7 linked regions of the Homo sapiens genome follow. The protein of the gene in region 5 purifies or fractionates together with the protein of the main gene of each other region. This does not show direct contact. Each region holds a gene or a part of one and is shown on either strand. Other genes may lie near its edges. The genes, in order: FASTKD3, MTNAP1, KIRREL1, TTC21B, SPACA1, GOLIM4 and SLC25A26.

Region 1 (3,500 bases), on a different chromosome or scaffold from region 5:
CATACCTCAATTCAGACGTAACTATGACTGGGATGCTTTCTGTTTCAGGTAAAGAATCTCATTTGGACACATTGAGTCGGGCACAACTGACCCAACTTTTCTTAGCCTCAGTCCTGGAATGCCCTTTCTATAAGGTAAAAGCATGAACTATATGTGGCTTTATTTCCCCATGGGTGCAGTTTCCTTTTAAGTTCCTTTACTTCTGATCTGTCTCAATAACCTGAAAAAGCAGAATTTCATTTACTTGGAGTCAGTTGCCACCAGATAGGCTTTTCTTTGATAAATGGACCCCATTTTTGTGTTCTTGTTCTTGAAGGAACAATTTCCTGCTGTTTAAGATTTCTTAGGAGGTTTTATCAAGTGCTGCAGGCATGTGAGTTACAGTATTTCTCCATTCTCTCTGAAGGTTTTACAGGGTTTTAGTACTAGGTTTACTACTAGGTTTCCCATAGCTGTTTGTTATCAAAGTGTGAATGTCTGGACTGAACAAATACCTAAATTATTTGCAAGTACAGTATATTTTTAAGCCAAGCCAGAAATTTCACTTTTATCTAATAGAGTTTAGTTTATCTAGAGTTCGCTCTTCCCATAAAGACCTATAAAGATTTATCCTATTACCTATCACATTCCTTATGTAGAATCAGAAATAGCACACCAGACTATGACATTCTCTCTCTGCTTCTCTCTACTTGACTCTGAATCATAGTTTAGAGTATCTGATTTTTGAAATAAGGTAATAAGAATGGAAAAATACCCCTTTTTTAAAACAGCTTAGACAGTACTAAGTTATATAAAGATAAATAATAGTTAACCCCGATCTCTTACCATTTCTAAAGGAACAGTATTAAAAGCAGTTTCTACGCCCAAATGTATACAGATACATAAACACTGTCTATTTTTTTTCTCTTTTCAAGGAATGAGACTCACTAATCAAAGTACAATTTGCTTTTATGCGCAGTATATCATGGCCATCCCTCGAGGCCAGTGCATACAGATCACATGCATTCTTTTTAGAAAGGCATGATATTTCATGGTGTTTATTCTACTATTGATGCACTTGGAGGTTTTTGCAACTTTTGTCTCTATCGGGAATGCTATAATAAACATTCTTGCAAATCCTGTCATACTAGAGCCTTTTTGGTTTTTTTCATATATAAACTAGATTCCCAAAAATGTGATTAGTGGATTAATTTTTGATGGATACTGGCAGATTTTTTTTCCCTAATAGTTACAGATGTCACATTTCCCCAGCAATGAATGAAGGTGGCCATGTCTCCTCCACTTCTATTGCAGTGTGTTAGTAGTCTCTTTAATTTGTGTTACTCAACTACATGAAAGAGGATATCATATCATATATTTAAGTTGCATTTTAATGAGCATTAATGAAGTTTAGCATATTTTCAAATATGTGTTGGCCATTTACATTTCTTTTGAATTGCCTTTCTACACCTTAATTTATTTCTGTTGGATGGTTTGTCTTTAAGGACTCATTGTAAAACAGATATTAACTATTATGAATGTTGTACATATTTTCCCGATTTGTACTCTTTTATTACTTTTTAATATTACTTATGATGTATTTTTAAATGTTCTGTAGTCGAATCTGTCTTTTATGACTTCCGAGGTTCCTATCTCAAGAGCATGAATATTTTACATTTTTAAAAATAATATCTTTTAAATTTTATTTAGATCTTTGATCTAAAAGTAAAATTGAATTTTTATTTATGTATTCTAATTAACAAAAATTGTATATACTTATTATGTTCATGTTGTTTTGAAATATGTATACATTGTAGAATGGCTAAATCAAACCAATTAACATGTGTATTACCTCCATATCTATCATTTTATTTTGTGGTAAGAATATTTAAAATGTACTCTTGCCGTGCGCAGTGGCTCATGCCTGTAATCGCAGCACTTTTGGAGGCCAAGGCGGGTGGATCACCTGAGGTCAGGAGTTCGAGACCAGCCTTGCTAACATGGTGAAACCCTGTCTCTACTAAAAATACAAAAAATTAGCCGGGCATGATGGCACACGCCTGTAGTCCCAGCTACTCTGGACTCTGAGTTAGGAGAATCGCTCAACCCAGGAGGCGGAGGTTGCAGTGAGCCGAGGTCGCGTCATTGTACTCCAGCCTGGGCAACAAGAGTGAAACTCTGTCTCAGAAACAAAAACAAAAACAAACAAAAAAAAAGGTAAAAAAGTACTCTCAGCCATTTTCAAGCACGCAATCATTCTTATTAACTATAGTCAGCATGTTGTACACCTGGAATTTATTAGCATCTGTCATGGATGACAGAAGTTTAATTTAGTTATTTTCCAAATAAATAACCATTTTCTCCAGCATCGTTTATTATATTGCTATCCTTTTCTTCCTAAACTGGAATGTCATTTATATCACATTTTCCATTACAGATTGAGTATCCCTTATCCAAAATGCTCAGGACCAGAAGTGTTTCAGCTTTCAGATTTTTTCATATTTTAAAATATTCTCATTATATTTACCAGTTCAGCATCCCTAATTCAAAAATTTGAAATCCAGAATGCTTCATGAGCATTTTCTTTAAGCAGCCTGTCTGTGCTTAAAAGGTTTCGGATTTTGGAGCATTTTGGATTTTGGATTTTCAGATTAGAGAAATTAAACCTGTGTTGAAAACTTTAGTTGTGTGTACTTAAGACCCTTGGGACAATTCTCAGTTCTAAAAATGTTTCTTGAACTGTTAGCATTATTATGTTTCTTCTCACTCTCTCCTCACTCCTTTTTACCTTCCTTCTTTACTTTTCTTTCTGTTTATGGTAACCAGTGACTACTGTAAAAACACATATAAAAGACATTTTGAACTATTAGACTTGCACTGTAAGAAGAGAAGTTTGCATTATCATTTTGAGAGAGATGCCTGTCCCAATTCCTGGAAAAGTATCATGCCTATAAAGTAATGTTATATCAAACTTTTCTACCTAGGTAACCTTCAATTTATTCTCTGTTGTTATATCTTATTTTTCTTTCTCACATTTGCACTTATGATTTTTTAGGGTCCAAAACTCCTTCCTAAATATCAAGTGAAGTCATTTCTTACCCCATGCTGTTCCCTGGAGACCCCTGTGGATTCTCAGCTTTATAGATATGTGAAGATTGGGCTGACTAACCTTTTAGGAGCAAGATTATATTTTGCTCCAAAAGTGTTGACACCCTATTGTTATACAATAGGTAAGTAGTATAAGGAGTTTTGTTGTTTTAAACCTAAGCATCCTGTTCGATTTTGGAGATATATGGGACTTAGAAGCAATAGAAGTTCTCTGGAAATGCAAAATGGAATGGTCCCTTCCCTGAAGGCAAGTTGGGGTTAGCAGCAGAGCCGTTGAGTCAAGACTGTCTGGGTTTAAGTCTCAAATATTAGCCACGTAGTAGCAGAATATCCTGGGCAGAATATTTAACCTTTTTCTGCTTGCTTCTTCCTCTGTAAAATGATAGTAATATTGACCTCAAAGACTTACTTAA
Region 2 (3,500 bases), on a different chromosome or scaffold from region 5:
ACACACACACAGAAAAGTATGGCACTATAACAAACATGGTTTTAGTTATGGTGTATTTTCTACAACATGGTTTAGTGGAAAAGATTAAACTAGGCCTCAGGAAACTAGGTTCTCCTTGCAGCTCTACTATTTATTGGCAACACAAACTTGGACAAATCACTTATGCTCTCTGTGCCTGTTTCATCATCCACAAAATAGGATAAATTCACTCTGCCCACCTCTCTGTCCACCTTGTGCCCAAAATAAAAAAAATACAGATGGAGGCACTCTGAAAACCACAAAGCAACACAAATGTTAATATAATTAAATGTGTTTATTACGGAGAAGGGGCTTGACTTTGTGACTACAACTTTGTGCAAAAAGGTCTAGACGTTAGGCCTGTTTATAGAAGGTAGTTAAAGAAAATGTAGCTTTGGGCTAGCAATGTTCTGCTTTTAGTACACATCCATTTTGAGACCAGGCAAATAGAGGTTTAGTGAATATGAGATCATTTGCAAAATCTACCAGAGAAGAAAATGATTTCCCTTTAGGAAGAGATAATACCAGTTTTTCTCTTGCAAACCTATTCTGAGTTGTTACAGGTCTCCTGTCAAAATAAGCATGAAAGCACCAATGGCCACTACACACGACAGGTATGCTACTTTACAAACGACAGGTATGCTACTTTACAATCACCCTGCCCCTAGAAAAGCTTAAGAAACTTTATGTATTTTAACTAGAGAGGTGGTCTCATAACTAAAGATGAGATTCAGCAGAGAAAAGCAAAGATATTTCAAATGACTGTCAGGAACTTCCTGGCTCCTTGGGCCTTGGTCTTCCCTCCTGTTAACCGATTCCAGCCATCAGCAAAAGGAGCCTCTAGGAAGCTTCTGAAGTTTGATTCATAATCAAGGTGAGTTTCAACGTTCAGTCTTTCGCCCCAAGCCCTTCTCGCCTCATCTCTCCTGTTTCCAGGCTCAATCACTGGTTTTATTCTTGGGTCCTAGTCTCTGTGGCCTACATTTTTTCTTTTGTTTTTGGCCACATCCTCCGTTTCTGGTCCTTGATCTTCACTGTTCATTTCCTGAGCCTCCACTTCCACTTATCTGCCTTGCCTGCCCGTCTTACCTGGCTAGTTTTACCTGTGTCCTACCACCTGCATCCTACTTTGCTACTCTAAATTCCTAGATGTTGCATTTGCCTGAAACCTAGAACCTATTTCTTGTCCTGTAAACTTAGAACCTATTTCTTGTACAACCTGGTCCTGACTGGATTCTGAACACAGTGCTTATTCTATCTAGCTGAATTTCAAGTCTTTATATTTTTCTCCAGTCTGTTTACCCATCCAGTTTCTACTGGACATGCCTCTTCTCAAGGCAGAAACTCAACTGCTTTCAGTATCGCCAGCCTGCCCTAGTGTAACCCTCAACTCTTGGGGGAGAGAAAAAGAGAGGGATAAACCACCACTACTGACCACTGAAGCAAGAAGTAATGTTTTCAGGACAATTTTTTTTTTTTGAGACAGGGTCTCATTCCCGTCGCCCAGGCTGCAGTGAAGTGGCACATACTCGGCTCACTGCAGCCCTGATTTTCCGGGATCAGGTGATCTCCCACTTTAGCCTCTCAAATAGCTGGGACTACAGGTGCGCCACCACACCCAGCTAATTTTTTGTATCCTTAGTAGAGATGGGGTTTCACCATGTTGCCCAGGCTGGTCTTAACTCCTGAATTCAAGTGATCCACCTGCCTTGGCCTCAGCCTCCCAAAGTGCTTAGATTACAGGTGTGAGCCACTACACCCAGCCTCTTTCAGGACAACTTTATATGCAGTCTACTGGCATGCCTAGGTGAAAATAAACTAAATGACTGAAAATGTTAGTATTTTGACCCTTATAAATTCAAAAGGCAGAGAGAGCATTTTGGATGGGACAGATGGCAATTGAAAATAAGCTTGTTTACCTTGTGAGAGTCTTTCCCCCTGGGGACTGATAAGTTGTGGCTTCTGGGTCATTGCATTCCAACACTGAGGCTTCCCTGGCAACACCCCTAGTCCAAGGTAACCAGGATAGAGCTCTGGAAACCACTCCAGCCCCATGCAGCTGCGAAGAGTCTTCCTGCCAGCAGCTGCAGCATGATTGGTGAAGGGGCTCTGAGGAGTGTGACGCTGGGCTGAACATAAAGGGCTCTGGCACCCAGTGTGTGATGCTTGGAACTGACTATCAGATTTGGGCTCCAGAGATAACTGTCCCTCGGGACTCTCCATTAATGCCTTTACATCAGGGACACAATGATGATTCTGGGCTTCTGCTTTCTTTTCTTGAAGAAATGTTGTAGCTAGAGAGGCAAGACTTTGACTACTTGACTGCGATACAGAATGAAACTGGTAAGTCGTCTCCCTCGGAATGAACAAACTTAAATGTGGTCTTTCCCCTTGAGACTCCTTTCCTGTGACTGAATCCCTGGTGTTGAAGTTCTCACAGCCATGGCTCATGACAGTCCGTTCCTGCTTTTCTGTTGCAGACATACTTTTCTCTGCATTTCCTTTGCTCCCACACGTCTCTACTCCCAGGGTAAGTCCTTTCTCTTGTTTCTCCATGACTTGGATTTTACCTAATGAGCTCATTTTAAGGCTTAAAATGAGGGATTCTGTGTTCTTTTCTGGAGTCTCAGTAACTGTAACATCAGTAGGGACTCCTGAGAGGTGATCCCTGCCTTTGGAATCTCTCTCATTGCTTAATAATGTTCTTACCCTTTTAACCCCATCACTGACATTCTTTGGAGAAATATGACAATCACCAGTAGGCACATCTAGTAATTTTACTAGAAGTTCCTGTCTTTGGGGATCAATTTTGTCCAATTTGAGATCACCAGAGGTAGTTTGTACATCATTAGGTAGAGTTGAGGAATATTTTCTATCTTGATTTGACAAAGAAGGTTCTATTGAGCCAACCAGTAAAGACGCTCCAGCTTCTGAAGGATTACATCGACTTTCTCCTGATTTAGGCAAATCTTTGGCAAGTTCTCTTTTAGGAGAGGTTTTCTCTGATGCGTAAAACTGAGCCTTGGTTTCTTCTTGGAAAGTAGTCATTGGTTTAGTATTTTTTAACATTTTGAAGGATGGTTGGATTGGATTCTTGATGTCTTTATCTGCCTTTGTAGTAGCTGCTCTTTCCAAACCAACAGCTGGCAGTGGAAAGGTCTTCACTGTCTGTTCTGGTTTGTCCACCACCAACTTAGAATTTCTTTCTTCATTCTCTGTCTCTAACTCTTTCCCTTTAGCTTTAATTAAATCTTTGATTGGTCCTTTCATCTTTTTAGCACGTGGGAGTGTAGCTGGCTTGGACTGATAAACTTTTTGATCAGTAGGTATGGTTGGTCCTATCATCTTACAGTATGGCAAGTGGGATTTTAATCGTTTAAATGGCTTCTTACAGTAAGGACACACTTCCATTCTGGGTGGATTATCACTCATCCTATTCCTGAAAAAGGTAAATGTGAGATTATGAGAAGCACATAGTTTGT
Region 3 (3,500 bases), on a different chromosome or scaffold from region 5:
CCACACGCTTGCATGCAGCAGTAATGCAGAACAGGTAGGTGTGCAGTCTTCCTTCTAGGAATTATCCTCAGCCCCCACCCCATCTTTCCTGCTTGGGTTCTAGTTCTGGCTCTGTCACTTACTAGCTGGATCATCTTGGACAATCTGCTTAACTTCTTTGGATCCCTGTTTGTCCATCTGTAAAATGGGGATAACACCTAACTTCAACAATTATGTCAGTATTGAATTAGTTACTAATGCATGTAAAATACAAAATTGCCCTTCACAAAAGTGAACGGATTTCTCCCCCACTCTGAGAGAGCCCATTATTTTTCCTGATTTCTGAAATTGCCTCTTCCTCCTCCCTGGTTTCACATTTGAGGATCAAGGACATGACAGCCTCTTTCTCCTCTACTGCTGACAACCCACCCCCACACCCCCATCCTTTTCCAGGTCAAAGAACCCTCCAGGAGATTGCCAAGTAAACTGGTCCAGAGGCCCTGGGAAGAAACCAGACAGGAACTGGTAGGTCGGGAAGGGGCATAACTTTCTCATCTCTGGACATATGAAGAGAAATGTCTCTAGCCTCAGATGGAAACATCTCCCAGAAATTGGGGAGATTAAGGAATTTGTCCCCATCCCTTCCCTCCATACCAACTGCCACCCCTTTGCAATTTATTTAACTTCTCTAGGTCTCTGTTTTCTCATCTATTAAATGGAGAAACAACTCTCCTGCCTACACCATAGGATGAGTGTATCTCTCTATCAAATGGTACATGTGAAAAGTTGCTAAAATTGCCAAGCACCATACAGGTACAAAGATAAAAGACTCTAAACGTGGGAGGAAAAGGATTGAGGCTTTCCAAACCTCCTTCTGACAAGGGGCATTATTTACTGGTCCCAGCCCCACTGATTAAAACATGTATCCTGACATCTAAGTTTTGCTTCACAAATGATCATCAAAGCAAGGCAGGGAGATAGATGTGTCCTTGGAATTTCTGGGCTGAGAACTAGGGAAGGGGGCTGAGCTGAGTGAGGCACCAGGAGAGGAAAAAAGGCCTAGGCTTCCCTCCTGTCCTTCCACAGCTGCCTTAACTCTAAGAAAGGCAGGGTGTGGCTCTTCTAGGCAGGCTGAAGGGCACTCATGGCGCTTAGGAGGGAGACAAAAGAGGGGTTGAATCTGGGGTCTAACACCTCAGGTATGCCCTTCAGCAAGTTACTTAAACTCTCAACTGTGGTTTCTTCATCTATAAAATGGGAGTAACATTAACCTGAAAAGCACACTGTAGGAATTCAATAAAAGGTAATTTTGATGCTTTGGTATGGAGTTCACCTCCTACAATCACTTTTCACCACCCAAGGCCAGGCAGTTCCCCAGGGCACAGGCTAAGAAGGAGGGTTGAAAGCCTCCCCAGGCGGGTTAGAACAAGCCATCTAAGACCCTAGCCTCCAATCCTACCAGACTACCAGGGACCAGACAAATTTGGAAGCTGACACTTGGGGAGATCCTGGTCTCAGGATTATCCCCTAGACCCCTTCTCAGTGCTTCTTTTGCCTCTGTATGGCTCTGGGCCTCTCCAGGAGTCAGCCTTGCATGGAACAAGAATAATTCCCAAATTTGTAGTTCATGGACCTGTAACAAGGCTGTGTTTAATATTAGAAACAAACCTTTTTATTTGCCAAGTCCTTGAAAAAAGTCATTTACTAGATTTATCATATCATCAAAGAAAAACAATTTAACACCAAAAAATGTAGGACAGAATCTCAGAATAAAGGATTGTTTTTTAAATTTGAATGAGTTTACCTTTATGAAATACTCACTCCCTTTTCTTCCTAGTTCTCATTCTGCTATGGACCAGGAAAATCCCTGTCCCAGTCCAGCATCAGTCTCTGCTGGCATGTAGGATCTGGCAAAGGAGAAGGGTGCAGGCTGTGGGATCCACTGGTTCCTACAACTACCAATAAGATACTTAATGTATCTAAACCTCAGTTTCTTGGCCAGGTACAGTGGCTCACACCTATAATCCCGGCACTTTGGGAAGCCGAGATGTAAGAAGCGGTTGAGCCTTGGAGTTTGAGACTAGCTTGTGCAACCTAGCAAGACCCATCTCTCCAAAAGAAAAAAAAGAAAATTAGCCAGGTGTGTGTGGTCCTAGCTACTTAGGAGGCTGAGGTAGGAGAATGGCTTGAGCCTAGGAGGAGGTTGCAGTGAGCCATAATCACACCACTGCACCCTAGCCTGGGCAGCAGAGCAAGACCCTATCTAAAAAAATAAATAAATAAATCTCAGTTTCTCATCCATGAAATGGGGATAATTTACACAGCCAATCTCAGGGGGCTGTAGCATAGATTAAATTAGATAATGCATATGAAGTAGTTACACAGGGCTCAATAAATGATCCATATTATTTCCAGACTCTGAAATGCTGCCACCTCGGGGCTAGTGTCCCTCCTCATTTCACACAAGAGCTCTGGTTCCTTCTCACTCAAGTGCCAACCTCTTCCACTTTTGCTCTCTCTCCTCAAATCCCTTCCCCAGATCTTTTCTGAGGTCTCCAAGGAGGGGGTCAGTTTCCCCTTCTGGGTCTGCCACAACATAGTTCTTTCCATGAGAGATACAAAGAAGGCACTTACTGAAGCCCAGGACCAAGAATCTGGGGAGCTGGAGCTAGAAAACACACACACACACACACACACCCCACAAAGAATCATAGGGAGAAGAAAAGGAAGCGCAGACAACTTGACTGCCTGTCTATCTATGTCTCACCTCAAAGCCAAGATAGCAAGCATTTACTGAGCACTTCTCGCTGTGCCAGACACTGTTCCATGTACGTTACATGGATTAACATATTCAAGTGCCACCACAACCCTATGAGGTATTACTTCCATCCTCACTTCTGGAAGAGCATGCTGAGGCACAGGGAATGTACATGACTTGTTCAAGCTTACGACTACCAAATGGTGGAGGTGGGAGCTGGATGCGAGTCTGTGATTTAATCGCCATCGAATGCTGCCTCTTTCCAGCACTGCAGCGCGCTCATCAAATCAATCAATTGATCAGATATTTAAGGGGCACTTACCACCAGAAACTATAGGATAAAAGAAATTAAGACTTAGTCCTTGTAAGGGTGTAAAGAGGTCCTAGGGGGGCAGAGGTGGGGCTTCCTCCTCCCATCTCACTGGAGCGCCAAAGGCAGAGCCAGAACAACCAACCACTCAGCTGTGGGAAGGAGCAGAGGCGAGAAGGCCTGGATGCCTCCTCCTCCTCCTCCTGACCAGGTGCTCTGGGGCCCAGGGCTGAGGCACTGAGTACTTGGTTCACACCCTCCCTTTGGGTCTAAGTGAGTAGAAGGCAGAAAGTGGAGTTCAGTCAAGGTCAAAGAGAGGAACCCAGTGTCCTGGTTTCTGCCATGTCTCCCCTGACTCTTCCCCAACCTCAGCGCCCTGCTCTGGGCAGAAGTGGGACATCTAAAGTGTGTATATGTGTCTATGTGTAGCACCGAAAGGGGAGAGTCCAGTTA
Region 4 (3,500 bases), on a different chromosome or scaffold from region 5:
ATGTTTGAAAAGAATTACTGGCTAACATTATCAGATGGTAGTAAAAAGAAAGAAATAGAAATGATCTAAAATTCACACTATTTTATATATAGTCAGGCACTGCATGATGATGTTTCATTAACAACAGACCACATACATGATGGTGGTCCCAAAGATTTTTATACTGTATTTTTGCTGTACCTTTTCTATGTTTACATACACACATTGCTTATAGCATTCATGACAGTAACATGCTGTACAGGTATGTAGCCTAGGAGCAATAGGCTATACCAGATAGCCCAGGTGTGTAGTAGGATCTACCACCTAGGTTTGTGTAAGTATACTCTAAGATGTTCACACAATGATGAAATTGTCTAATGATGCATATCTCAGAAGATTTCCATTGTTAAGCGACACATGACTGCATATATATATGTGTGTATGTTTATATATGTGTGTGTATATATATGTATGTCTATATAGGTGTGTATATATATATCTCTACACACACACACATGCACACAGGCACACATGGGCAGGGCCTATGGCAGAATCTCACATCTCAGATTTTAGACAAAAATAAGAAGTTTCAGAGAGGTAAACTTAATGTCATTACCAACAAATTCTAAAATGAACTAAAAGGGTTTGTGACATTCAAAAAGTAAAGCAATTTTTAAGATGTCATGCCAAACATACTTACATGGGAACTAGTCAAGATTTCAGTTTTGGTTTGTGGTTTCTTGACTAGCTTTGGGATCTTACGCAAGTGGCTTGAGCTGTCATTTTCAGGTTTCCTCATCGCTAAAACAGGAATAACAACTCCTCCCTCTAACTCTTAGTATAATTTTAAAAATCATATAAAATACTTGTGAAATGGTTTTTAAAACCTTAGAATACCACAAAATATTAGCATTTTTTAATGTAAGCATTCACTATATTATAATCACAGAATTTTAACACTGGAAGAAACTTGATACATGACCTGGTACAAAAATTTCAGAGGAAATAAAGACCTAAGAAGGGGAAAGAAAATGTGCACTGCAGCTGCACTACACCTGCCAAACTTATTAGAACTCAACTATATGCAATCAGGAGAGACAGCGAGAGAATGCAAACATTCTACACAGTCTAATGACTGTCCTATAACCTGAGAATAGGTATGAAGGGTGAAACATGAGTAGTTTCTTCTCTCATTGGATCTCAGTTGTTCCTAGTGTGTTTCTTTTTTTCCTCGTATATATTTAAGATATACAAAATGATGTCGGTGTGTAGATGTGGGTGTGTAGATATATGTGTGTGTGTGTATATATATTTATTTATAAATGATTACTGCAGTCAAGCAAATTATCCATTCATCATTCATCCTGGTGCCTCTTATAGTGACAATATTCAACCCTGAATTCTATGGAAAGAGCATGAGCACGATTTTTTTTTTTTTTTTTTTGAGACAGAGTCTCACTCCGTCAACCAGGCTGCAGTGCAGTGGTGTGATCTCGGCTCACTGCAACCTCCACCTCTCGGGTTCAAGCAATTCTCCTGCCTCAGCCTCCTGAGTTGCTGGGATTACAGGCGCCCGCCACCATGCCCGGCTAATTTTTGTATTTTTAGTAGAGACGGAGTTTCACCATGTTGGCCAGGCTAGTTTCGAACTCCTGACCTCAGGTGATTTGCCCACCTCGGCCTCCCAAAGTGTTGGGATTACAGGTGTGAGCCACTGCGCCTGGCCATGAGCATGATTTTAAGGGTTTTCTGACAACTGAAAAAGTGAAATACATTGTTTATTTGGCCAGGCACATTGAGGGTGTTAGATGCAATGACAATCTTAAGGATGAAATTGAGGAATTAATGGAGAGCCTTAGAAAGAAATGATTACCAAAGCAAAGCTAGAGGAACTGATAAAATAATCTATAAAATACAATGATGACACAATGAAAGAACTAGTCATTTGGAATCTCTTTATTTGCTGAGGTCTTCCAAGGAATGGAATATATAAATAATTTAACTTCTATGTGCATTCCTTCTATGGAATAAAGTGTCAAAATTAATATTTTAAGGATATTTAAGGACTTTTCATTTTACCAGATGACTTTATTCTGAAAGATATATCACACCTTAGAATAAAAAATACTATAAAAATCATTAGTTTTTGTGCTTTGCACAAGTCTAGTATAGTATGAGAACAGACTCCAGGAAACTAACAGATGAGGGAAGACCTGAGCTAACAGCAGTTAGTATGAGGTTGACTCATTTGACTGCAAATCAAAATCGAATTCACACGGTGACATGGCTGCTGAAAAGACTGATGCCATCTTAGGCTGAATTAACAACTACAAATTGCCTAATCAAAAGAAAAAAATAGCTTAATTATACTTATAAGAAGCCAAATCATATTTGAGAGGTTGTTCATTTATGGTACAACAGGTCAGAGGGGCATGGAAAAATAAAACAGCACTTTCCAAACTTACATGGCCATGGCATCTACCACCTTCACACTTCATTCTTTTTAATTAAAAAAAAAATAATTATTAAAATCTCCCCAACTGTTCCAAAGCACAGTTTGGGAAACACTATTTTAGAGCTTCCAGGAGACAGCAACAAGGAAGATGAGAGACTCGGAATCCAATCTTAGGAAGAATGGACAAGTAACTGCAGATGGCTTGAAGACAAGTCCTAGGACACAGGACTGAAGATTGCAATTTAAAGGGTCATGATCTGTAAGAGGGAGGCATTCTGTAAGTTGCTCCGGAAAACAGACTTGGGCAGTTTCAAGGAGGCATATTTCAACCCAATACAAAGAAAGAGTACACAAACATGAGGATGAGCTCCCTCGTATGAGGAGAGAGGTTGGTCATGACATATATTCTGATGCCACCTCTGTTAGGGACACTGTAGACTAGCATTACCCAAACTAACAGCCTGCAACATCCAGCCTGGGACTGGATGATGTTTCTAGATGCTCAGGAGAAAAAAAAAATGTCCCATGGTCAAATAATTGTGGGAAACATGGCCCCTCTGTGATATCCATCGCAATATACGTTAGTGTTTAAAGGCTTTGAGAAGTAAAGAAACCTGTGTAATTCAATTTAATGCAATATTTTCCTAACTTACTTGGCAATGGAAACATCTTTTTCCATGGCATTCCCAATTTCAAAATAGCACCTTCTTTTAGAAGGAAGAGAAGGGGGCAGAATTAGACTAGATGTACACTAAGTGACTGAGGACAAGTTTGGAACTCAGGAAACTGAACTATTAGTAGCTAATAATATATTATGAATATAAAATTTATTCTCCTTTCAGAAAGGTTGACAATGAAAATTGACTCAATGTTTATTTTGTTTTGAAAAAAATCAAATGCATTTAAATGAAAATTAATAAATACAACATAATTTTTCTGTGAAAAATCTAGGTGATTGCCAAACTCACCTACTGCCGGATTTGTCCGATTGCTATATTTCCATGCCATCTCATAGTTCAAGGCAGCATCTGTATATGCTTGCTCTTTTTCCATAATGTATCCCATA
Region 5 (3,500 bases):
ACACACATATGACCTATATATGATATATGTATATTGTATATACATTATATGTACATAGAAGATATATGTATATTGTATATACAATATATGTACATATATATGTACATATATATAAAACATATATATTACCTCTTCTCTAAGAAGTGCCTTTGTATTCATTATTCATTTTTAGTTTGCGATGCATCAGCTACAAATCGATAGTATATGAGCCCTCAGACTTACCAGGGTGTACTACTCATGTAGGTATTATAAATATTGTCATACAAATGAATTAGTAGGTTACAATAACCAAGTTTTAGAGTTGAGAGAACCACAACTGGACAACACAAATATTCATTAAATAAAACTTTTTAAAGCAATTACCGTGTAAAATTGTAAAAGTTGCATTTAAAAGCTCTCTCATAGTTGGAGAAGCAAGTCATGAGATTGTTTTAAAAAGCATCTACATAAAGAGACGGGGCAGCCTGAACTAGGGCAGTCACAGGAGTAATGAAAGGCGATGGACAGTTTCAAGGCAACATGTAGGAGACATCACGGACAGGGCTTTGCAATTCACTGGATGAGGAGGGGGAAGAAGAGGATGTCAATCAAGGGTGATGATGCATTCCACTATTCACCTACCAATTTATGATTATGAAGATCAATAAGAAAATTATAAATACACAGATAATGACTCCTATGGTCAGCACAAAAATTAGGGCTGCATCAGTGGCTGGTAGGCTTGATCTTCTCATCTGCAATTCTAGAGAAAACACACAAACCTAAGGAGTATTACTACTGAGGAAAAGGAAATGAATATCTAACTTAAAAGTTTATATTTGAAAAACAACTCTAGAAACATAAAGAAATGCTTAGTGCAGAGAAAATTATTAATGATCTTGCTCTGCATGTTTGAAATGTCCTTTTCAAACATGAAAAAAGTTAAAAGAATTTGACAACGAACAGCCTGTATTACCACCATCTAAATACTACCATTAATATTTTAAAATTCATCTATCCATTCCTCTATCAATTCATTAATCCATCTTATTTTTATGCATTTCAATATAATTTGCAAATGTCAGTACACTTCCTCAAAAATTTTTCAGCAAGCATATCGTTAACTGGAGTTTAATATTAGTTTTTTCTTTGAAATAAAATTTTCACACAAAGAATTGCACAAAGATCTTAAATGTACATTTGCTTAGTTTTGACAAAGGCAAACTCATATATGTAACTAAATGTTAGTCAAGATATAGAATATTACTATACCCCAGAAAGTTCCCTTGAGCCTCTTCCTAATTAACTCCTTCCTCATCCTCCAGAGGCAACAAGCATCCTGATTTTCTTTTCCACCATAGATTAGCTCTGACTATTCTAGAACTACATATAAATTGAAACACACACTAGGTAATCTCTTGTGTAAAGATTTGTTTACTTAGAATAATGTTTTAGAAATTCACCCATACTGTTATATGCAACTATCATTTTTTTATTATTACTAGGTATACTCCACAATTTGTTTACTCATCCTCCTACTGATGGATATCTAGGCTGTTCCAGTTGTGAGATACTATAAATAAAGCTGCCATGAACATTCTTATACAAGTCATTTTGTGAATATATATCTTAATTTTTGGCTAAATGTCTAATAATAGAATTGCTGGGTCGTAGGGTAGACAGATGTGTGTTTAGCTGTCTAAGAAACCATGAGAACTTTCTCAAACTGATTGTACTGACTGTACAGGTTTTATAAATGTTTTCTACCAGATTTTGGCTTGCCTATTCATTATCCTAATGATTTTTGTTAATGAGCTGAAGTTTTTAATTTTGATGCAGTCTGATTTATTCAATGTTTCCTTTTATGGTGATTGTTTTCTGAATTATGTCTAAGAAACGTTTGCCTACTCCTGAATCATGCAAATAGTCTCCTATATTTCTTTCCTAAAACTTTATGGGTTTAGCTTTTACACTTAAGACTATGATACCTCTCTAATTTTTATATTTGCTGTAAGAAAGGAATTGAAGCTCATTGTTTTCTATACACATATCCACATACCCCGACCCCTCTCTCTTTAGGAAATGGGGTCTTGCTATATTGCCCAGGCTGGCCTTGAACTCCTGGGCTCAAGTGATCTTCCCACCTCAGCCTCCCTAGTAGCTAGTATTATAGGCACACACCACTGTACCCACCTCATGCACCACTCTTACCTCAAGCATTCTCTCCCATGTCTCTCTGCTCTTTCAGCAAATAAGGTTATCAAAGAGACAAAGCCAATCTACCGTATGTATTACAGTATTGCTACATTGTAAACTAGTAAAAAGCCAATTAACATAGAATATTACTTACTTTGTGAATTACATAGCTTTATTGTATCTCTTTTATGACCCCAAATTCTGGAATCATAAAAGATTCATGGAAGAAAGAACTACAGAGATCATCTGATCCAACTATTGCATTATACAGATAAGTAAACCAAGGCCCAGGGAGGTTTAATTTGTACAAGGTATATTTTGACTATTTAAATACTTTGATTTTGATAAGTACTACTCTGTCAGAACTAGTCTTCTATATGAGCAATCTCAACTGCTTATTTTTCTGGATTTGTTTCCCTATCTGTTAGACATCATGGAGTATAAGTTTCCATTTTGCCTAGTAATTCTAGAGCTATAAACTCAAGTTAGGGATCTCGCTAAATAGTTCCAAGTATGCTAGAGAAAATACATCTATATTTACGTTCCAACATTGTTGGATTTTTAAAAATCTTTTTATTTCAAAATAACTTTAGATTTACACAAGTGGTGGCATTTTGGAAACTTAAATAAAAAACACCTTTCAGAACTGACACCTGACAAGGAGAAATGCAAATTTCATTTATCCATTACTCTGCAATGTTAGCTGAGAGAGGGTGGAGAGTGAGGGGCATGAAGATTTTATTTATTACAACAGTAGTCTTGCAAGGGTCACCTAGACTATTTTTACAGGTAATGAAAAAAATAGGCTCAATTTCCTATTGAAGTATTTAATGAAAAATAGGCTAAATTTGATGCTCTCACCTTTTAGATAAACTAAGCTTATGTACTTATTAGTTTCCTAGGACCACCATAACAAAGTACCACAAACTGGGTGACGAAAACAACAGAAATGTATTGTCTCGCAGTTTTGGAGGCTAGAAGTCTGAAAACAATGTGTTGGCCGAGCCATGCTCTCACTGAAGGTTCTTGGGGAGGATCCTTCCTTGTCTCTTACAGCTTCTCAGCTTCTGGTAGGCTCAGAAATTCCTTGGATTCTGGTAGCATAACTCCAATTTTTGTCTCCATTTTCACATGGCTGTCTTCTCCCTATGTCTGTTTCTCTGTGTCTTCACCTGGCATTCCGCGCCCCACTTTCCATCTGTGTTTGTGTGTGTGTGTGTGTGTGTGTGTGTGCGCACAAGCATGCCCAAATATTCCTCTTCTTATGAGGGCACCAGTTATATTGGATTAAAGGCCCACTCTGCTCTAGTACAACCTCATCTTAA
Region 6 (3,500 bases), on a different chromosome or scaffold from region 5:
ACAGATAAAGAGGAAGCATACTTGAAGAATTATAGTTAAAGATTGTATGGATACCTAAGGGGCCTCACCCACACCTGGATCAAATTTGGATGGCATCTAGATTTTGAGGTGATGACCGCCTATACAGTAAAAAAAATTATTTTTCATATTTTAATAAAAGTGATGTTTGACATCAATACAATTTAACTTGTTTTATAGCATCCAAACCTCTAAATAAAATATAAAATAATTTAAAACATTTTCTGTCTGTTAAAAGATTGAGCTACTAATGCAGAAGGGCAAGCATCATAGATTTCTAATATTAATATTATTTATTAATAAATCTCACTAATATAAAACTTGATAAACTTCTCTAAACCAAATTAATCAATTATCAACTGCCAAATTTTAATCTGTTTATAATATTTATTTGACAGCATCATAGCTATTATCAAGAGAACACATAAGCAATGTCAAAGCTGTCCTAAATATCTTGATTTGCAGATTATTTTTTCTGTTTGTAACAAAGATTCCAATTAAAGGAGGCATTTTAAATGAGATGTGAACTGGAAAATGAAATGTCTGACTCTCCTAAAATGATTATAATTTTTTTAACTTCATGCACTCCCAAAGAAAAGCAAATAATATCATTTCAATGTTCTATAATGCCTATCCTTCAGAATGACAGCACATCTTAATTTTCTATTCACTATCATATTGTGACATTTTATGTATGAAAAATAGTTAAAGCAGTATTTTTTAAAATGTCATACGGCTATAGAGAGCAATTTATTTCATGCCCATGTCCCTCCGGGCTATGAGCCTATTTAGTAAAGCTTATCAGTGAAGGACAATGACTGACATGTCTTCTGCATATGCACTCATGGGCCAATAAAAACAAAGAACACAAATATACCATTCAGAAATACACAGCACTGTTTAAAAATAGCAATGCCCATTTCTTCTCACAGAGAAGAGGGTCCTAGTCTACAGAGACAGCACAGAGCAGTGAAGGGGTATTATCTTGTACTGAGAGTCAGAGTATGTGGGCTCTCAGCTTAGCTTAAGCTACCTGGTAAGTGACTTATCCACCTTAGAATTCAGTTAACTAACTGTAAAATTCAGTGTCTGTATCCAACTTGATCAGTCAATGCATTCCTAAACTTCAGACATGCAGGCACCCCTCAGGCGAGTTCTTACTACACTCATGCAAAACCTGTACAGTTTTTTTGAATCCACCAAATAATCACTTAAATAAGTTTATTTTTCCTTAAAATAAACTTTAAACAGGAAACTTTTACACCACTACTTTATAAATGAAAAATCTGATTTACATAGCATTAATGATTGGTAATAGATTTAATTTTAAAATTAAATACAATAATACAACAAAACAATTATCAAATTCTAGCTATCAAGTTGTTGGCTGCCTAACGTCTATTCTCTTTGGAAAAACAGAGAAGCAACTCTCTAGGAGAGAGATTCTAGCATCAGACTGAGAATTTCTCCATTACTTGTCAGGAAAGCATTGAAAGGAAATAAGTTTTTCATTATATGATTCACTGTCATTTCAGGCAACATCTACATGCCACATAAAATCAACTCTAGTATCAACCAAAATCATCTTTCATACCAGCAGCAAATTTCTTGTACCCTGGAAATGCTGCATCAAATAGTACACCCGTTATTTCTGATTCTAAATTTTATCATGAATCCCCATATGACCCACCTAACCTACTTTCTTAAAACCATTAATACTGTCATGAGAGACACTAAAATAATTTTGAGGGCAATGATGCACTATGGAAAAAGTTACATTAGGTTTCTAAGCTTAGTTTCATCAGGCTAGATCTTGACACTGGCAAGTTAATTAACCTCTCTAAGCCTCAGATTGCTCATTCAGATTAAAGTGCTAGTGTCACAGTTAAATGACATAATGCATGTAATAAGCTTAGCATTGAACCCGAACATGGTAGGTACTCAATAAATGTTATGGATTAAAAATAATTTAATTTTCTCAAATAAGTTTTCAAAATTCTACTAAAATTCACTCCAAAGAACACTGGCTAAAAAGAAAATATAGTTTATCATTTTTCTTTTATAATAAAGCTATATGATATATAACTTTCACTTCAAAATAAAGCTATAAAACCCATAAACCATCTACTGGCAAAAGTAGCAAAACCACTTTGTCCTTAATGATAAAAGAAGAACCATTGGCTGTCAAAATGAAAAACAACAACTCTTAGTTGCTATCATGTAAAGCATTTTCAGGTTTTTTCCACCCCAAGAACGGCTCAAAAGGGTAGAAAAGACAGAGTGAGAATATCTTAATCAAAAAGTTTCAGCCAAGTAGGGCACATAGTGAAAGGAGCCACTTTTAGGCCAGCACTAATAACACTCTTACCTACTAGATGTAGTAAAGGCTGGGCAAAATAAAAAGAAGCCCAATGTTAATTCAACAACAGTAGTTCTGGTCACCTAATAAATGGTAGTAGTAATATTCTCCAGGACTCATACTCGTCACTTCAGATGCACTATTTCTAATCCATACAAGTTTGCAAGTTAGACATTGCTAACCCAAATTAAAACACGAAGAGGCTGAAGTTCAGAGAGGTTATTTGCCTGCTCAAGGTCACCCTGCTGGTAAATGCCTGAGTTGCACTGAAACCACATCTGATGCCCCAACCAGCTCTCCAGTCACCATTTCCTGCTGCTTTTCTTTTAGGACATAAAGATGTGAACAAAACTCTTCCTCAGTACTTTGAAAAGTCACCAGGTGATATGTGTCCCCTTTTCTTTCCCTGCCCTCTTCTGGTTTCTCTCCAATCCTTTGCTTTTTGATTCACACCATATTTAGTCAGTATTCATTTCCCCAACTCCAATTCACTTATTCCTTCAGCCACAGTAATGTGGTATTGTACCCCAGCCCTTTTGGAAACTGTCCTTCCTAAGAAAAGAAAGAATAAAAAGAAATCAAGGCAAGGCTTCCAATCTACTTGGAACTTAAACTAAAGGCTCCCAGATAACAAGTAATTCTCTTACACAGCAACCAATTATTTACCTGGACACCAGTACTCTCATTAGAGTTGGCATGTTACATATTAGAGGGATGACTAAGGTGGGCACAACGTGTGAAATCGATTATAGATTATGTGCAAATCATACATATTCAAAAGAATGCTTCACTGAATTAGAGCTTCAAAAGGTATTTGGAAGCTTTTATCTTTTATTCAGGGAAGGAATTTACACACAAATAAAAATTACTGAACTTAAGAGTATTTTTGTTCCATATTCTAAATGGTACAGGATCAAGCAAAAATGATAGTCTCTTCATTTAACTCTAAGTTGTACTTCAGTGAAGATGTCCATTTAATAGACAATGTCTAGTTCATGTTTTAAGTTCTAACGCTGCACTTGAAAATTAGTACACCTACCACACATTGCCCACACTTGTGGTCTAAATTGCTGAGGTCTATGAACCACTCTGTTGTATATGTTTCCTCAATCATCCAAAATGC
Region 7 (3,500 bases), on a different chromosome or scaffold from region 5:
CCCATTTCTTGGACTAGTCTGCAGCCATAAAAAATAGTGCTTGTGAAGAGAATGTACTATAATTACATGGAAAATGCTTATGAGATAAAATTAAGAGAAAAACATTGCATGTATGTATATTTGCTTGTACCTAATTAAAGCTATGTTAAAACCTATTCCATTCATGGGGAAAAAAAGCCAGATTGAAATACTCCAAAATAGCACTAAGTATTTTTGGTGGTAGGATTACATCGTGTTAGTCTGTTCTCATGCTGCTAACAAAGATACCTGAGACTGGGTAATTTATAAAGGAAAGAGTCTTAATTGACTTACAGTTCCATTTGGCTGGGGAGGCCTCACAGTTGTGTGGAAGGCAAAGGAAGAGCAAGTCATGTCTTACATAGTGGCAGACAAGAGAGCATGTGCTGCAGGGGAACTCCCCTTTATAAAACCATCAGATCCTGTGAGACTTACTCACTATTACCAGAAGAGCAAGGGAAAGACCTGCCCCCATGATTCAGTTACCTTCTACCAGGTCCCTCCCACAACACATTGGAATTATGAGAGTTACAATTCAAGATGAGATTTGGGTGGGGACACAGAGCCAAACCATATCATTCCACCCCTGGCCTCTCCCAAATCTCCTATCCTCACATTTCAAAACCAATCATGCCTTCTCAACAGTCCCCAAAGTCTTAACTCATTTTAGCATTAATTCAAAAGTCCACAGTCCAAAGTCTTATCTGAGACAAAGCAAGTCCCTTCTGCCTATGAGCCTGTAAAATGAAAAGCAAGTTAATTACTTCCTAGATACAATGGGGTTACAGGTATTGGGTAAATACACCCATTGCAAATGGGAGAGATTGGCCAAAATGAAGGGGCTGTAGGCCCCATGCAAGTCTGAAATCCAACAGGGTAGTCACATCTTAAAGCTCTGAAATCATCTCCTTTGACTCCATGTCTTACATCCAGGTCACGCTGCTGTAAGAGGTGGGTTCCCATGGTGGCTTTGTGGGATACAGCTCCCCTCCTGGCTGTTTTCATGGGCTGGCATTCAGTGTCTGTAGCTTTTCCAGGCACAGGGTTCAAGCTGTCAGTGGATCTACCATTCTGGGGTCTGGAGGACAGTGGCCCTCTTCTCACAGCTCCACCAGGTGGTGACCTGGTGGGGACTCCTTACTGGGGCAGCCACATTTCCCTTCCACACTGCCCCAGTAGAGGTTCTCTAGGAGAGCCCCACCCCTGCAGCACACCTCGGCCTGGACATCCCGACGTTTCCGTACATCATCTGAAATCTAGGCAGAGGTTCCCAAAGCTCAGTTCTTGTCTTCTGCACACCCACAGTACCAACACCATGTGGAAGCTGCCAAGGCTTGGGGCTTGCATCCTTCGAAGCCATAGCCTGAGCTCTACCTTGGCCCCTTCTAGCCACGGCTGTAATGGCTGGGACACAGGGCACCAAGTCCTGAGGCTGCACACAGCAAGGGGGCCCTGGACCCAGTCCAGGAAATCATTTTTTCCCTCCTAGGCCTCCAGAGCCTGTGATGGGAGGGGCTGCCATGAAGGTCTCTGACATGCCCTGAAGACATTTTCCCCACTGTCTTGTCAGTTAACATTTGACTCCTGGTTATTTATGCAAATTTCTGCAGCCAGCTTGAATTTTTCTCCAGAAAATGGGTTTTTCTTTTTTACCGCATCATCAGGCTGCAAATTTTCCAAACTTTTATGCTTTGTCACCTCTAGGATGCTTTGCCACTTAGAAATTTCTTCTGTCGGATACTGTAAATCATCTCTCTCAAGTTCAAAATTTCACAGATCTCTAGGGCAGGGGCAAAATGCTGCCAGTCTCTTTGCATAGCAAGAGTGGCCTTTACTCCAGTTACCAAGAAGTTCCTCATCTCCATCTGAGTCCACTTCAGCCTGGATTTTATTGTCCATCTCACTGTCAGCATTTTGGTCAAAGCCATTCAACAAGTCTCTAGGAAGTTCCAAACTTTCCCACATCTTCCTGTCTTCTGAGCCCTTCAAACTGTTCCAACCCCTGCTTGTTACCCATTCTGAAGTCGCTTCCACATTTTCAGGTATCTTTATAGTAGCACCCTACTGTGGGTACCAATTTCCTGTATTAGTCTGTTCTCACACTGCTGATAAAGACATACCCAAGACTGGGTAATTTATAAAGGGAAGAGGTTTAATGGACTAACAGTTCCACATGGCTGGCAGAGGGGCCTCACAATCATGGTAGAAGGCAAAGGAGGAGCAAAGTCACGTCTTACATGGCTGCAGATGAGAGCGTATGCAGGAGAACTCCCCTTTATGAGATCATCAGATCTTGTGAGACTTATTCACTATCACCAGAACAGAATGGGAAAGACCTGCCACCATGATTCAATTACCTCCCACCAGGCCCCTCCCACAACATGTGGGAATTATGGGAGCTACAATTCAAGATGAGATTTGGTTGGGGACCCAGAGCCAAACCATTTCATGTGCGTTCTTTTCTTTTTTTTTTGAGACAAGGTCTTCCTCTGTTGCCCAGGCTGGAGTGCAGTGGTGCTGTCTCTGCTCAAGTGATCCTCCCACCTCAGCCTCCTGAGTAGCTGGGACTAGAGGCATGCACCAACCACGCCTGGCTAATTTTTTAATTAAAAATTTTCTTGTTTTGTAGAGACAGGGTCTTGCTGTGTTGCCAGGGCTGGTTTTGAAGTACTGGCCTCAAGCAATCCTCCTGACTCAGCTTCAAAGTGCTGAGATTACAGGCATGAGCCACTGAGCCCAGCCCATGTTGTTCTTACAGTTTTTAGAAAATTTTTTTTGTAGAAAGAGGTGTCACAGGTATGAGCCACCACACCTGGCCCACCCTAAGAATTTTTGTCAAAACATTAAAAACGCTTTGGTTGTAATATATAGGGGAAAAATTGCAAAGCTGATGTTTATTTAGTACACTGTAATTAAAAACATTAGAAACATTAATAACTTAATTTTTTGGACAAAACCTTATCAACAGTAGTTTGAACATTTGCTTGTGTTCTCATTATGTATTATAGAAGAAGCATCTTTTTATGCCTTGGCAAGTTGTCATACTGCTTTCTCAGTTTGGATCAACTTCTAACATTTTATTTTTTGTGCTTTCAATGTTGTGAGTTCGTTTAATGCGAAGACTTGCTGACATAACTTAGTCTGGGACATTTTCATCCTTTTCATCACAACTACTTTCCTTATTTATGTTAAATTTGCTCTCACTTATTTTTTCTAGTTACTTATCTAGATTAATGACAGCAGTGTGAATATTTCCATGGCCAGCTGTTTGTTCTCTAATACCATTTATGTCTGATTTTTGTTTAACTTTGTGTTACCACTTTTCATTTTTTTTGCATTTTCATCTTTGTTCATCAGTTTTCTGTCTATTTTTATAAAATGTCGTGTGCATTTATTACTGGGAGATGAGGTAACAACTATTTGCTGTCTGTGCGTAAACTGAGTAATAGGCAGTGATTTCTGTTAATTGTATTGTGATTTGT

What was found.
Region 1: the proteins of SPACA1 (region 5) and FASTKD3 purify together in Homo sapiens (affinity purification with mass spectrometry; 3 studies listed by BioGRID and IntAct, with this or other methods). This does not show direct contact.
Region 2: the proteins of SPACA1 (region 5) and MTNAP1 purify together in Homo sapiens (affinity purification with mass spectrometry; 3 studies listed by BioGRID and IntAct, with this or other methods). This does not show direct contact.
Region 3: the proteins of SPACA1 (region 5) and KIRREL1 purify together in Homo sapiens (affinity purification with mass spectrometry; 3 studies listed by BioGRID and IntAct, with this or other methods). This does not show direct contact.
Region 4: the proteins of SPACA1 (region 5) and TTC21B purify together in Homo sapiens (affinity purification with mass spectrometry; 3 studies listed by BioGRID and IntAct, with this or other methods). This does not show direct contact.
Region 6: the proteins of SPACA1 (region 5) and GOLIM4 purify together in Homo sapiens (affinity purification with mass spectrometry; 3 studies listed by BioGRID and IntAct, with this or other methods). This does not show direct contact.
Region 7: the proteins of SPACA1 (region 5) and SLC25A26 purify together in Homo sapiens (affinity purification with mass spectrometry; 3 studies listed by BioGRID and IntAct, with this or other methods). This does not show direct contact.

The regions. Positions count from the first base shown.
Region 1 is NC_000005.10:7,862,532-7,866,031, reverse strand, and holds part of FASTKD3 (FAST kinase domain-containing protein 3, mitochondrial), read left to right. Parts: intron 1-48; coding exon 49-134; intron 135-3,034; coding exon 3,035-3,209; intron 3,210-3,500. UniProt on the Homo sapiens protein: Required for normal mitochondrial respiration. Increases steady-state levels and half-lives of a subset of mature mitochondrial mRNAs MT-ND2, MT-ND3, MT-CYTB, MT-CO2, and MT-ATP8/6.
Region 2 is NC_000017.11:73,235,433-73,238,932, reverse strand, and holds part of MTNAP1 (mitochondrial nucleoid-associated protein 1), read right to left. Parts: intron 3,458-3,500; 5' UTR 3,451-3,457; coding exon 1,938-3,450; coding exon of another isoform or gene 1,837-1,937; exon of another isoform or gene 295-1,836; intron 1-294. UniProt on the Homo sapiens protein: Critical regulator of mitochondrial DNA (mtDNA) abundance. Binds dsDNA throughout the mitochondrial genome without sequence specificity and controls mtDNA copy number by promoting its replication.
Region 3 is NC_000001.11:157,996,645-158,000,144, reverse strand, and holds part of KIRREL1 (kin of IRRE-like protein 1 isoform 1 precursor), read right to left. Parts: intron 1-3,500. UniProt on the Homo sapiens protein: Required for proper function of the glomerular filtration barrier. It is involved in the maintenance of a stable podocyte architecture with interdigitating foot processes connected by specialized cell-cell junctions, known as the slit diaphragm.
Region 4 is NC_000002.12:165,877,277-165,880,776, forward strand, and holds part of TTC21B (tetratricopeptide repeat protein 21B), read right to left. Parts: coding exon 3,403-3,500; intron 2,692-3,402; coding exon of another isoform or gene 2,552-2,691; exon of another isoform or gene 1-2,551. UniProt on the Homo sapiens protein: Component of the IFT complex A (IFT-A), a complex required for retrograde ciliary transport and entry into cilia of G protein-coupled receptors (GPCRs). Essential for retrograde trafficking of IFT-1, IFT-B and GPCRs.
Region 5 is NC_000006.12:88,061,341-88,064,840, reverse strand, and holds part of SPACA1 (sperm acrosome membrane-associated protein 1 precursor), read right to left. Parts: intron 762-3,500; coding exon of another isoform or gene 743-761; coding exon 622-742; intron 1-621. UniProt on the Homo sapiens protein: Plays a role in acrosome formation and establishment of normal sperm morphology during spermatogenesis. Important for male fertility.
Region 6 is NC_000003.12:168,085,925-168,089,424, forward strand, and holds part of GOLIM4 (Golgi integral membrane protein 4), read right to left. Parts: intron 1-3,500. UniProt on the Homo sapiens protein: Plays a role in endosome to Golgi protein trafficking; mediates protein transport along the late endosome-bypass pathway from the early endosome to the Golgi.
Region 7 is NC_000003.12:66,224,001-66,227,500, forward strand, and holds part of SLC25A26 (mitochondrial S-adenosylmethionine carrier protein), read left to right. Parts: intron 1-3,500. UniProt on the Homo sapiens protein: Mitochondrial S-adenosyl-L-methionine/S-adenosyl-L-homocysteine antiporter.